Homo sapiens: one gene and its partners. The protein of the gene in region 2 interacts with the protein of the main gene of each other region in a biochemical or structural test. Each region holds a gene or a part of one and is shown on either strand. Other genes may lie near its edges. The genes, in order: ZYX, TES and VASP.

Region 1 (3,650 bases), about 27 Mb from region 2:
CAGAGCATGCTCGGACATCGCCCCCATGGGACAGGGGCACGCAATGGCGTGCACACACGCGCACACACACCTACCCGGCCTGCCTGCTGCTGAGCAGCCCCTGTCAGCGTGAGGATACAACACAGGCAGGAATTGCAGGTTAAACCCACTGAGCTGTCTGCAAGAACCCAGCCCCACCCCCACACAGAGACCCTGTCCCTCGAGTGAGGGGCCTCTGAACTACCTCACTCAGGTCCCTCCCCAGCAGCCTCAGAGAAGGTCCAAAGGCCACCCCCTAGGCCAGCCCAACCTTCCCATTTAGGGGATCCCGGGGACTGGAGTGGGGGGTGGATGTTAAGGACAGCGCTGCCAGTAACCCTGAGAGGTAACCCTGAGAACTCCGGGAAGGGCTGTCTGACCTGCATCAGCACTGCCGGGAGACACGCCCACAGGAGCAAGTGCACTGGGTGGGTCTTTTCTATGTCTGGAAAAGCCTACCCAGGACTGTGGCCCCATCACTGAGTGTGCTACCTGCAGATGCCTTCATTCCCATAACACCTGGAACCTCCAAAGCCCCCCTGCTACCTCCTCCCATAGCCCCTCTCCCCTCAGCCCTGGCTTCACTGCCCCTCACCCCGACCCCCATCTGTACCCAGAGTTGCGTCCTTTCTGCCCAGTGAAGCATGCGTCCATATAAGTCCAACTCTCCAGATCTTAGCCATTTTCCCTTAAGATCTTAGCCATCTTCCCTTAAGATCCTACCATCTCTTAACTGACTCGTTCCCTGGAACACTCACTTCAACTTTGTCTCCTCCAATCTTCCCTTCCTGGCCTCTTGGGGACACAGTGAAGGGGCTCAGTCAGTCCTTGCTCTCCAGTGCCATTCTAAATGCCTGGCTCCTCCTTCAGAAGCACAGAATCCTCATCTGCATCACCTCCCATGGGTATCCCCATTCATCAGGACACTCTATCCAGAACTGCCCCCTCTGCCAGCCTGCACCAATGCCACCGCTTCAAACCAAACTTCCGTCCATCTCAGTCATCATCCATCATGGGACATCCTTGACCTCAGATTTACCTCCAAGTCTCTTGCCAGCCATTATCTGCCTCTCCTCTTCCCCATCCACACCTACTACATGAACCCAGAAAAGCCTTAGTTGCCCCCACCCGCAACCCACCCCTGGACTTTGTCCACCATGCCCCAGCCTGGTCCCATGACCATCTAACTCCTACAGGGTTCACTGTCCCTCCGGGCACCTGCAGCCACCCGCAGCTATCCGGCCCAGTCTCCAACCCCAAGTCACACCACCACCCTCTTCCTGTTTCTGCTTCCAAGCTGCAGAAAGCAGTGGAGAGATCACTGAACACTGCAGCGTGAGCTCACAACACTGCAGCACCCGCGCGACCTCCAGCCCAGCCTTCCCCACAGCAGCCGTTCCAGACCTCTCCATCTCCTGAGCCCCCACCTGCTTCGTCCCTTTGCTCGCACCGTGACCTCACCTCCCACATGGTTGAGGACATGGAAGCCAGCCAGCTTAAGCTCCCTCATCGTCCTTCCTATCCACGCTGCAACCACTCTGTCCTTGCTGTCTGGTATGCCTCTGGGGGAGGAGACATCACCAAGATCTCCTCCAGGGACCGAAGCAGCCTGCCCCTGCTCTCCCACAACACTCACCCTCCATCACCTGCTTCCCCGGGTTACACACGTACCTGAGCCCTTCTCCCCTAACTTGCAAAAACCACATATGCTACACCACAGACTCAAACACACACACCCTCACACATACCCACATACCACTCACATGCACACACACATACCAGACCACACACATACACCACTCACATACACTCACACATATACCACACCACACACACACACTCACACATATACCATACCACACACACACACACCACTCACATTCAGATAATACCACACCAGGCCAGGCGCGGTGGCTCACACCTGTAATCCCAACACTTTGGGAGGCTGAGGCAGGCAGATCACTTGAGGTCAGGAGTTCGAGACCAGCCTAGCCAACATGGTGAAACCCCATCTCTACTAAAAAATACAAAAATTAGCCAGGTGTGGTGGAACGTGCCTGTAATCCCAGCTACTTGGGAGGCTGAGACAGGAGAATCGTTTGAGCCAGGGGGGCGGAGGTTGTAGTAAGCATGGGCGACAGCCTGCACTCCGTCTCCAAAAAAAAAAAAAAAAAAAAAAAAAAGATATACCACACCACACGCTCACACACACCACTCACATATATACACATACGCCACTTGTGTGTATTTGTAAGAAAGTATGTATGTGCACCTTCACTTGTGCAATCACACACCATACACATCACAGCCACACTCACACATGCACACACCTTCACTCACACATGCACACATGTACTCATATACACATACTTTCACACAATCACACTACACACATCACACGCCACTCATACATTCATGCTCACACATGCACATACACTCACATACACCATACCCACACCCACACACTAACACACACACACACGCCACTCATATATTCACATATGTGTATATATACACACACACACACCACTGACACACAGTCCTTCCCTTAGTCCTTTAAGACCAGGCTACACCAGCAGCCCCACTTCTCACCACCCACTCTCTCCTCAACTCCTCACATTGTGTTCCCACCACAGGGCACAAACAGGCCATCCCAAGACCGCTGATGATTTCCCAACAGTCTAATCTCTAGCCTTGAGTCCTCACTCCCTCAAATACCCCACTGAGGAGCTCAGCTCTCTTCTCCAAGTGCACCCTGACTCTCCTCCTGACTCTTCTTCCCGCACCTCCTGGTCCCCGCTGTCTGCACTCCCTGGGAAGCTCCTCCGCTCCGACCCTGACCCTCCAGCGTCACAGTGTCACTGTGCCCCACTACCATGCTAGACATCTCTGGCCCTCTCCTGAAACCTAGCCCTGGATTTCTAGCTGAATGACGGCCCCAGCTGAAAGTCCTCCTGGGACCTGTTGCTCAAAACGTTGACAGCTGGACCCCTCCTCTTCCCGTCCAAACCATTTCCCCTTCTGGACTTCTCTATTTTGTCAGCAATCCTGCCATCCGCCCACACCCCATCTCCAAATCGTGCTGGAGACTTTTTTTTCCCTCTTCCCCTCACCCTTGTCTTCCAATTGCTCATCCCTTGCTAAGTCCTGGAGGCTGTGCCTTCCCAACAGCTCTAGCACACAGCTCTCACATGCACGGTTTAATTTTCATTGCAGCTAACATTACTATTGCCCAAGAGTGAATTCACACCCATCACTGACCTCCCTCGAATACACATCTCTGCTGGTGAAACTTTCCAGAAAGCTTCCAAAAACACTGCTTTCACCAGCCCTCCTGACCCACCCCACACCTACTCAAAAATCATGAATGCCTCTCCAGTGCTCAAGAGCTCCTTGGGTGAGCCACTTCACCTCCTACACCCTCCAGCCCCGCTTGCCTCTCCAAGTATAGCTCTATCATTTTCCTACAGGAACCTTCCACTTTCTGTTCTCCAAACATCCCTCTCCTCTCTGGATTCTTACGTCCTGCCCATCCTTCGAAGCCTTTCCTAATTTGACTCCCCGAGTTGACTCCCTGGTCTGAGTGCCTGTGACTCACAGGATTCTGCAAAGCTCACTGGCCCTTGGCATTT
Region 2 (3,650 bases):
ATTAGTACACATAAATGGTATAGAGAATTAAAGTCTGGGGTTTCATAAAATTTCATTTTACTAATAATTTGATTACCATTCATTCAAAATCTGACATGTAATCACAGGTCGAATCTACTGTTCCCTAATTCCTCAAAAATCTAAAATTGGCCCAGGCTGCGCCAAGGGCCTGGGGACTGCAGAACCCTTCAGGGAGATGATGTGCTTCACCACTTCCTGCCTGCCATTTGATCTTCCCATGTTCCTAAACCTTTAATATTTCAAAGAATTCTTATTTCCTTCAATCCCTCTTCTTATTTGTACACAGGATGTAAAAGAGCTAATGACACCTGTTGTAATGAGCTCTCTGCAGGAGTGTCCTATGAATCTGACGGATGTGAATTCTGGGGGTAACTATGGAGTTCTAGTGACTACACAGAGACAAAGTAGGTGCATCTGCCATGTTTTTTCCTTCCAGGTACTTTTTTTTTTTTTTCTCAGAAATGTTGTTTGGAGTTGAGCACTTGATTTCAGGTCTAAAAATAATTTGTATTTTCTCTCTTTAAGATGAAAAGATCTAAGCAGATCAATGCCCTGAACTAGATAACCTTCTCCAAATTTTATATAATGTAGCATGCTGTGTGGGTAGCTCTCTTTGCTGTTAGCTGGAATCTGTTCTGGCAATGGATATGTATGCTCATTTTAATATTAGGCAAAGGCCAATGGTATATCCCACTGAGAAAGTAAACATAAAAGAAATGATGCTACACACACACACACACACACACACACACACACACACACATATATATATATTTTTTTTGAGACGGAGTGTCGCACTATCAATCACCTGGGCTTGGGGTGCAGTGGCAGGATCTCGGCTCATTGCAACCTCCACCTCCCAGGTTCAAGCAATTCTCCTGCCTCAGCCTCCCAAGTAGCTGGAATTACAGGCACCTGCCACCACGCCCAGCTAATTTTTTTGTATTTTTAATAGAGACGGGGTTTCACCATGTTGGCCAGGCTGGTCTCGAACTCCTGACCTCATGATTCGCCCACCTTGGCCTCCCAAAGTGCTGGGATTACAGGCGTGAGCCACCATGCCTGGCCAAAATGATGCTATGCTATAAAACTAAATAATTTGAAAATTCTTTTATTTAAACAAATCATATCTGTGGTTATACCCTGCCATTGATTAGAAACAATGTAATACAGAGAAGCTTGTAACAGCTAAAAAAAGAAAAAAAAGCAGTTTCATCTGTTTCAATAAATTTTTATTGAGCACCTATGTTGTCCTAGTGTTGGGAACAGAATAGAAAAGGCAGATAAAAAAATCCCTGCCCTGATGGAGTTACATTCTAGTCCTTGAGACTAAAGGTCAGACAGCAGCAAAAAAAAAGGTATACATTATAATACCTTTAGTCTGTAGAAAAACTGTTGCAACAATATTCATTGAAGCAGTTTTTAGCTAAATAATGTATCAGGTTACATGGTGATTTGACGTCTTGTTCCCTAGGTAAAGGAATGACCATGGTAACCCCAAAGCGAGAAATATTAAGAACACGAGTCAGTCACTCAAACATTTTCTAAGTGCTGACACTGAAGATATAGAAAGCAAGATATAAGGCAAGCTCTACCCTCCAGCTGCTTACAGTCTAGTGAAGGAGACAGATGAATGATATTCACACACACACACACCCCCACACACCCACCCACACACACACCATTGGGAACATGGAGAGTCTGGAGGAAATGGTGGAGTTTGGGCATAGTGAATCAGGAAAGGTGTTCCGAAAAAAAGTTAAACCTAAACTGAATCTAAAGGAATAAATGTGTAGGTACAGTCAGGTAAAACAGGGAAAAGTACGGTGTATTAGAAAAACTATTAGGAGTAAGCAAAAGACAACAGTGTGTAAACTAGAAAATGATGGTGAACGTGTGGAAATGTATGATTTGCGTTGGATAACTAGTAGAAGGGACAGGAGAGGCAAGAAGGGGCCAGATCTATCAAAAGTTTAATAATTTGCATTTTAGGAAGATAATTTTCCATCATTATGGTGGGTAGCTTTTGAGCAAGATGAATGAAAGTGGAGGAACGAAATTTGAGGCCACTGCAATAGTCAAAATAACAACAAAAAAAAAGGTCTAAAGTAGAATGGTTGTAATTATAAGAATGTGAAATATATTGGTGAGGCACAGTTGATAGAGAATGAATAACTGTATCTGGGGCAATGGGTGAACGCTGAAAATTGGCATTGACATAAAAACTTGTTACCTTATCTTCACAGTACCACACTCTTATAACTATATATAACTATATAAACCATATGTAATTTCATTCCTTAGCCAGGAGTCCCTTTTACTTGATAGCTCAGGGGACCATTAACACATATGTGTTTTGCTGCATATAAAGAAGTAAATGTCTATTTGGATACTCCTGGATTATACACTTTACCATCTATGGTCAACTTTTTACCCTTTATCTACATTACCATCACTTGGCCATTATACAACAGCAGCTCTGTGTAAGCAGAGTAAATGCAAGAAAAAATATACTTTCACATTGGAATGTTTGGCCCACACAAAAATCTAAATACGCAGGCCAAGTTTTGTTATGCTAAATCAATTCAATGAGGGTTTAAGAAATAGGTATCTTACAATCTCCAGGTAGCAAAAACAAAATTCCAGTGGGTGGTCCAATAACACAAACAGAAAGCATCATATTCAAATAGAGCTAAAGAATATCAATAGCCCCTAGACACCTTTATTGAAATGGAATCTGATTGCTAACCATGAAAATAAAACAATCTCATTCCCATTAAGAATTTTTTTAAGTGAGGATTTTATTATTAAGCAGTACCTATAATTGATATTGTAAATTTCACAAGTAGAAATCTTGAGGTGGCTCATAGTCAATGCATGTATTGTTTTTGAATTGCCTTGATTTTAACACCCTGTGGTAGGAATAATTTGCTTTCTACTTAGGAGGACTGCTTTCTGTTTCCCATTTGTAAGAGGCTTTAAGAAAAGCATAAACTCAAGTCCTAAAGCAGGCTGAGGCAACCATATCCTTAGAACACTTCTCACCACAGCGTGATTCTTCACATAGCAGGGCTTGCACACGGGCTTGTCATTGACCATCACGTATATCTCCCCAGCTAGAATGCTATCACAGTCAAAGCAGCAGAAGTGTTTCAGGTGCCAATTCTGGTTTTCTGCCTGGGTATACTCATTGCTGAATATCAGCTAGGAAGAAGATAAAAATAAAGATGGATTTTTATATAATAAGAGATTTATATCTGTAACAACATACTTTCTCAGGGTCTAAAGTTTGAAAATGATAACCTAAAGCTTGAACTTATGCTATCACTTAGTTTAGTCTAAATCAATCTTTTATATTTCTAGTCTTTCATTTGTCAACCCAATTAACACAGACAGAATGAATGATATCAGAAGTTTATTTTTTAAAACTTCTTTGGATGTAAACAGAGCAACTGCTGTTTGGTCAAGTCTTGTTGCCTTCTAGGTAAAGGGACCATATGAGGGTCTAAGAGGGCACCAGCATGCCGGTGGTCCCATAGAACATACCTCGTCACAGCCAGCACATCGGGGTTTCTCGCTGTCACAGTAATGTCTGCCACAGTATAGCTTCTCATTCTTCCAAAAATAAA
Region 3 (3,650 bases), on a different chromosome or scaffold from region 2:
CTCACTCCCTTAGCTGGAAACGCTTCTCTCCTTTTCATCCCCTGCTGCACATTTCATAGCAGTGACCCCTGCCCAACACAATATTTGTCTGTCTCCGCTGCCAAAAAGGCAGAAATTTGTGTCCCAGTTGTTCACTGCTGTGTCCCCAGAACCTAGAATGGCGTCCAACACATAGTAGGGACTCAATAGTTACGAAACATCTGTAAAAAAAGGCAAACTTTGGCCAGGGGAGGTGGCTCACGCCTGTAATCCCAGCACTTTGGGAGGCTGAGGCAGGAGGATCACTTGAGCCCAAGAGTTTGAGATTGGCTTGGGAAGGCTGGGTGTGGTGGCTTATGCCTGTAATCCCAGAACTTTGGGAGGCCAAAGCAGGTGGATCTCTTGAGGTCAAGAGTTCGACACCAGCCTGGCCAACATGGTGAAACCCTATGCCTACTAAAAATACAAAAATTAGCCAGGCATGGTGGCTCATGCCTGTAATCCCAGCTACCCAGGAGGCTGAGGCAGGGGAATCACTGAACCCAGGAGGCAGTTGCAGTGAGCCGATCTCAGACCACTGCACTCCAGTCTGGGAGACAGAGCGAGACTCTGTCTCAAAAAAAAAAAAAAAAAAAAAGGAGAGAGACTAGCTTGGGCAAGATGGTGACCTCCGTCTGTACAAAAAACTTTAAAATTAGCTGGGTGTGGTGGCGCTTGCCTGTAGTCCCAGCTACTCAGGAGGGTGAGGCAGGAGGATCACTTGAGTCCAAGAGGATGAGGCTGCAGTGAGCCTTGTTCAGGTCACTTGCACTCCAGCCTGGGCAACAGAGCAAGACTCCCTCACAGAGCAAGACTCCCTCACAAAAAAAGGCAAACTTTTACCTAGGACACCTAACATTTCTCAGTCAGCCTGGGTCCCAGACACTCTTCTTGGTGCTTGACACCAATTTCCCTGCTGCATGACTCTACAACCTCATGGGATAGGCTCTGACGCTCACCCTTTTGACAAGGGGGAATTGCAGGCACAGAGGAGTGAAGGCACTTGCCCCAGATCACACAGCAAGTAAGCAGAGGGGCTCATAGTTGAAACGAAGTTCCCACAAGTTCTTAACTTCATTTAAAGATGAAGAAGCAGAGCTAAATTGAAATTTTTAAAAGCCAAAGTACAAGGTAGTGTTGATCAGAGGCTTTACAAAACCAAAAAAAAGGTCGGGTGCGGTGGCTCATGCCTGTAATCCCAGCACTTTGGGAGGCCAAGGCAGGCGGATCACAAGGTCAGGAGTTTGAGACCAGTCTGGGCAACATAGCGAAACCCCGTCTCTACTAAAAATACAAAAAATTAGCCAGGCGTGGTGGCGGGCGCCTGTAATCCCAGCTACTTGGGAGGCTGAGGCAGGAGAATCACGTGAACCCAGGAGGCGGAGGTTGCAGTGAGCCAAGATCACGCCACTGCACCCCAGCCTGGGGGACAGAGCAAGACTCCGTCTCAAAAACAAAAACAAACAAACAAAAAAGGTAGGCTAGGCGCAGTGGCTCAAGCCTGTAATCCCAGCACTTTGGGAGGCCGAAGCAGGCGGACCTCTTGATGTCAGGAGTTTGAGACCAGCCTGACCAACATGGTGAAACCCTGTCTCTACTAAAAATAGAAAAATTTGCTGGGCGTGGTGGCGCGTGCCTGTAATTCCAGCTACTCAGGAGGTGAGGCAGGAGAATTGCTTGAACCTGGGAGGTGGAGGTTGCAGTGAGCTGAGATCGCGCCACTGCACTCCAGCCTGGGCGACAGAGCAAGACTCCATCTCAAAAAAAAAAACAGTGAGGAGCATATATAAATATATCTGCACTCAGAGTGGTGATATATGCAGAGACTGTTTCCCAAGACACTAACTGTGGCTGCCTCCATTGAGGGGAACTCAGGAACTGGGGAGGGAAGAAACAAATATTTTGTACCATTTATCTTTTGAGACAGAGTCTCTCACTCTGCACCCAGGCTGGCAGTGGTGTAATCTCAGCTTACTGCAGCCTCCACCTCCCAGGTTCAAGCAATTCTCCTGCCTCAGCCTCCCAGCCTCCACTTCCCGAGTTCAAGCGATTCTCCTGCCTCAGCCTTCTGAGTGTCCGGGATTACAAACGTGTGCCACCACGCCAGGCTAATGTTTCTATTTTCAGTAGAGATGGGGTTTGGGCGTTTGCCACATTGGCCAGGCTGGCCTCAAACTCCTGACCTCAGGTGATCTGCCTGCCTCGACCTCCCAAAGTGCTGGGATTACAGGCATAAGCCACCAGGCCCAGCCACCATTTCAATAATTTCAGTAAGTATTTCAAACTGCTTATTATTTGTTTTCTTATCATGGGTTGAAATTACCTATAAAAACCTAACTCACTACTTAAGTTCAATAAATAAAACTGTAAACTACACAAAAGCCAGAACGAAAATCCCATAGCCATAAAACGGGGGTGCGGGGGCTGTGAGATGGAAAGGAGTTCTGCCCATTTCCAGTGTGTTTTCCCGAAGTCTAGAACCCTCCATTGGACATGAGAACACTTTAATTTTCCAGCCAGCCCAGGACCCACTCCTCCCTGCAAGTCCCCACATTTTGGAAAACTCTAGCACATGGCGGATGAAAAGACGGTTCAAGTTGCCTCCTTGTTGTGTGGCTTTGCCTCTCTGAAACTCAGTTTCCAGCCCTGGAAACAATAACTCACTGGGTTCATTGTAAGGATTAAAAGAGATAATGGACAAAAAGCCCTAAACGCAGGAACTGTAACTTGGTACACGCTCCACATGAAGGAGAGAGCTTCCCATCACCAGAGGTAATCAAGCATGGTGAATCCGGTTTTCACAAAACTTGCAGTCTTACCCTTCCCTTCACTGTCCCCTGAACCCAAGACTTAGCCCATACCCTCCTTATACCATAAAACCTATGATACATATACACCACCCTTCCAAACGACAAATCTTCTTTTGTCGGGGATGGGGCTACTCTAGTCCCTTCCTCCTGGTGGGCCTCAGTTTCCCATAAGTGAATAGGAAGATAAATGTTGCAGCTTCGGTTTCATTTGGCTTATCTGAATTATCTTAAGAGTTTTCACAGTGAAAGCACGTTCCTTTTTTTTTTTCTTTTTCTTCATTAAGAACACGGAAAGCATGTTATCTCTATTTTTTTTTTTTTTTTGAGACAGGGTCTCACTTTGTCACCCAGGCTGGAGTGCAGTGGCAAGAATATGACTCATTGCGGCCTCAACCTCCCCAGCTCAAACGATCCTCTCGCCTCAGCCTCCAGAGTAGCTGGAACTACAGGCGCATGCCACCACACCCAGCTAATTTTTGTATATTTTGTAGAGACGGGGTTACACCATATTGCCCAGGCTGTTCTCAAACTCCTGGGCTCAAGCGATCCTTCTGCCTTGGCCTCCCAAAGTGTTAGGATTACAGGCATGAGCCCCGGCGCCTGGCCCTGTTTGAGTTTAATAGGCACCTTGCCTAACTTTCCTGTGCCTCAGTTTCCCCATCTATAAACTGAGTACCGGGGTGGGGAGGCCACAAGGTTGTAATAGTATCATTGTTCGAACTGCCATGAGGGGCCAGGTGTGGTGGCTGACGTCTGTAATAATAACACTTTAGGAGGTCGAGGCGGGTGGATCACCTGAGGTTAAGAGTTCGAGACCAGCCT

The links.
Region 1: the proteins of TES (region 2) and ZYX form a complex in vitro, tested with the Homo sapiens proteins (one study listed by BioGRID).
Region 3: the proteins of TES (region 2) and VASP form a complex in vitro, tested with the Homo sapiens proteins (one study listed by BioGRID).

What each region holds. Positions count from the first base shown.
Region 1 is NC_000007.14:143,384,212-143,387,861, reverse strand, and holds part of ZYX (zyxin), read right to left. Parts: exon of another isoform or gene 2,477-3,650; intron 1-2,476. UniProt on the Homo sapiens protein: Adhesion plaque protein. Binds alpha-actinin and the CRP protein. Important for targeting TES and ENA/VASP family members to focal adhesions and for the formation of actin-rich structures.
Region 2 is NC_000007.14:116,251,893-116,255,542, reverse strand, and holds part of TES (testin), read right to left. Parts: coding exon 3,568-3,650; intron 3,226-3,567; coding exon 3,067-3,225; intron 426-3,066; exon of another isoform or gene 1-425. UniProt on the Homo sapiens protein: Scaffold protein that may play a role in cell adhesion, cell spreading and in the reorganization of the actin cytoskeleton. Plays a role in the regulation of cell proliferation. May act as a tumor suppressor. Inhibits tumor cell growth.
Region 3 is NC_000019.10:45,510,435-45,514,084, reverse strand, and holds part of VASP (vasodilator-stimulated phosphoprotein), read right to left. Parts: intron 1-3,650. UniProt on the Homo sapiens protein: Ena/VASP proteins are actin-associated proteins involved in a range of processes dependent on cytoskeleton remodeling and cell polarity such as axon guidance, lamellipodial and filopodial dynamics, platelet activation and cell migration.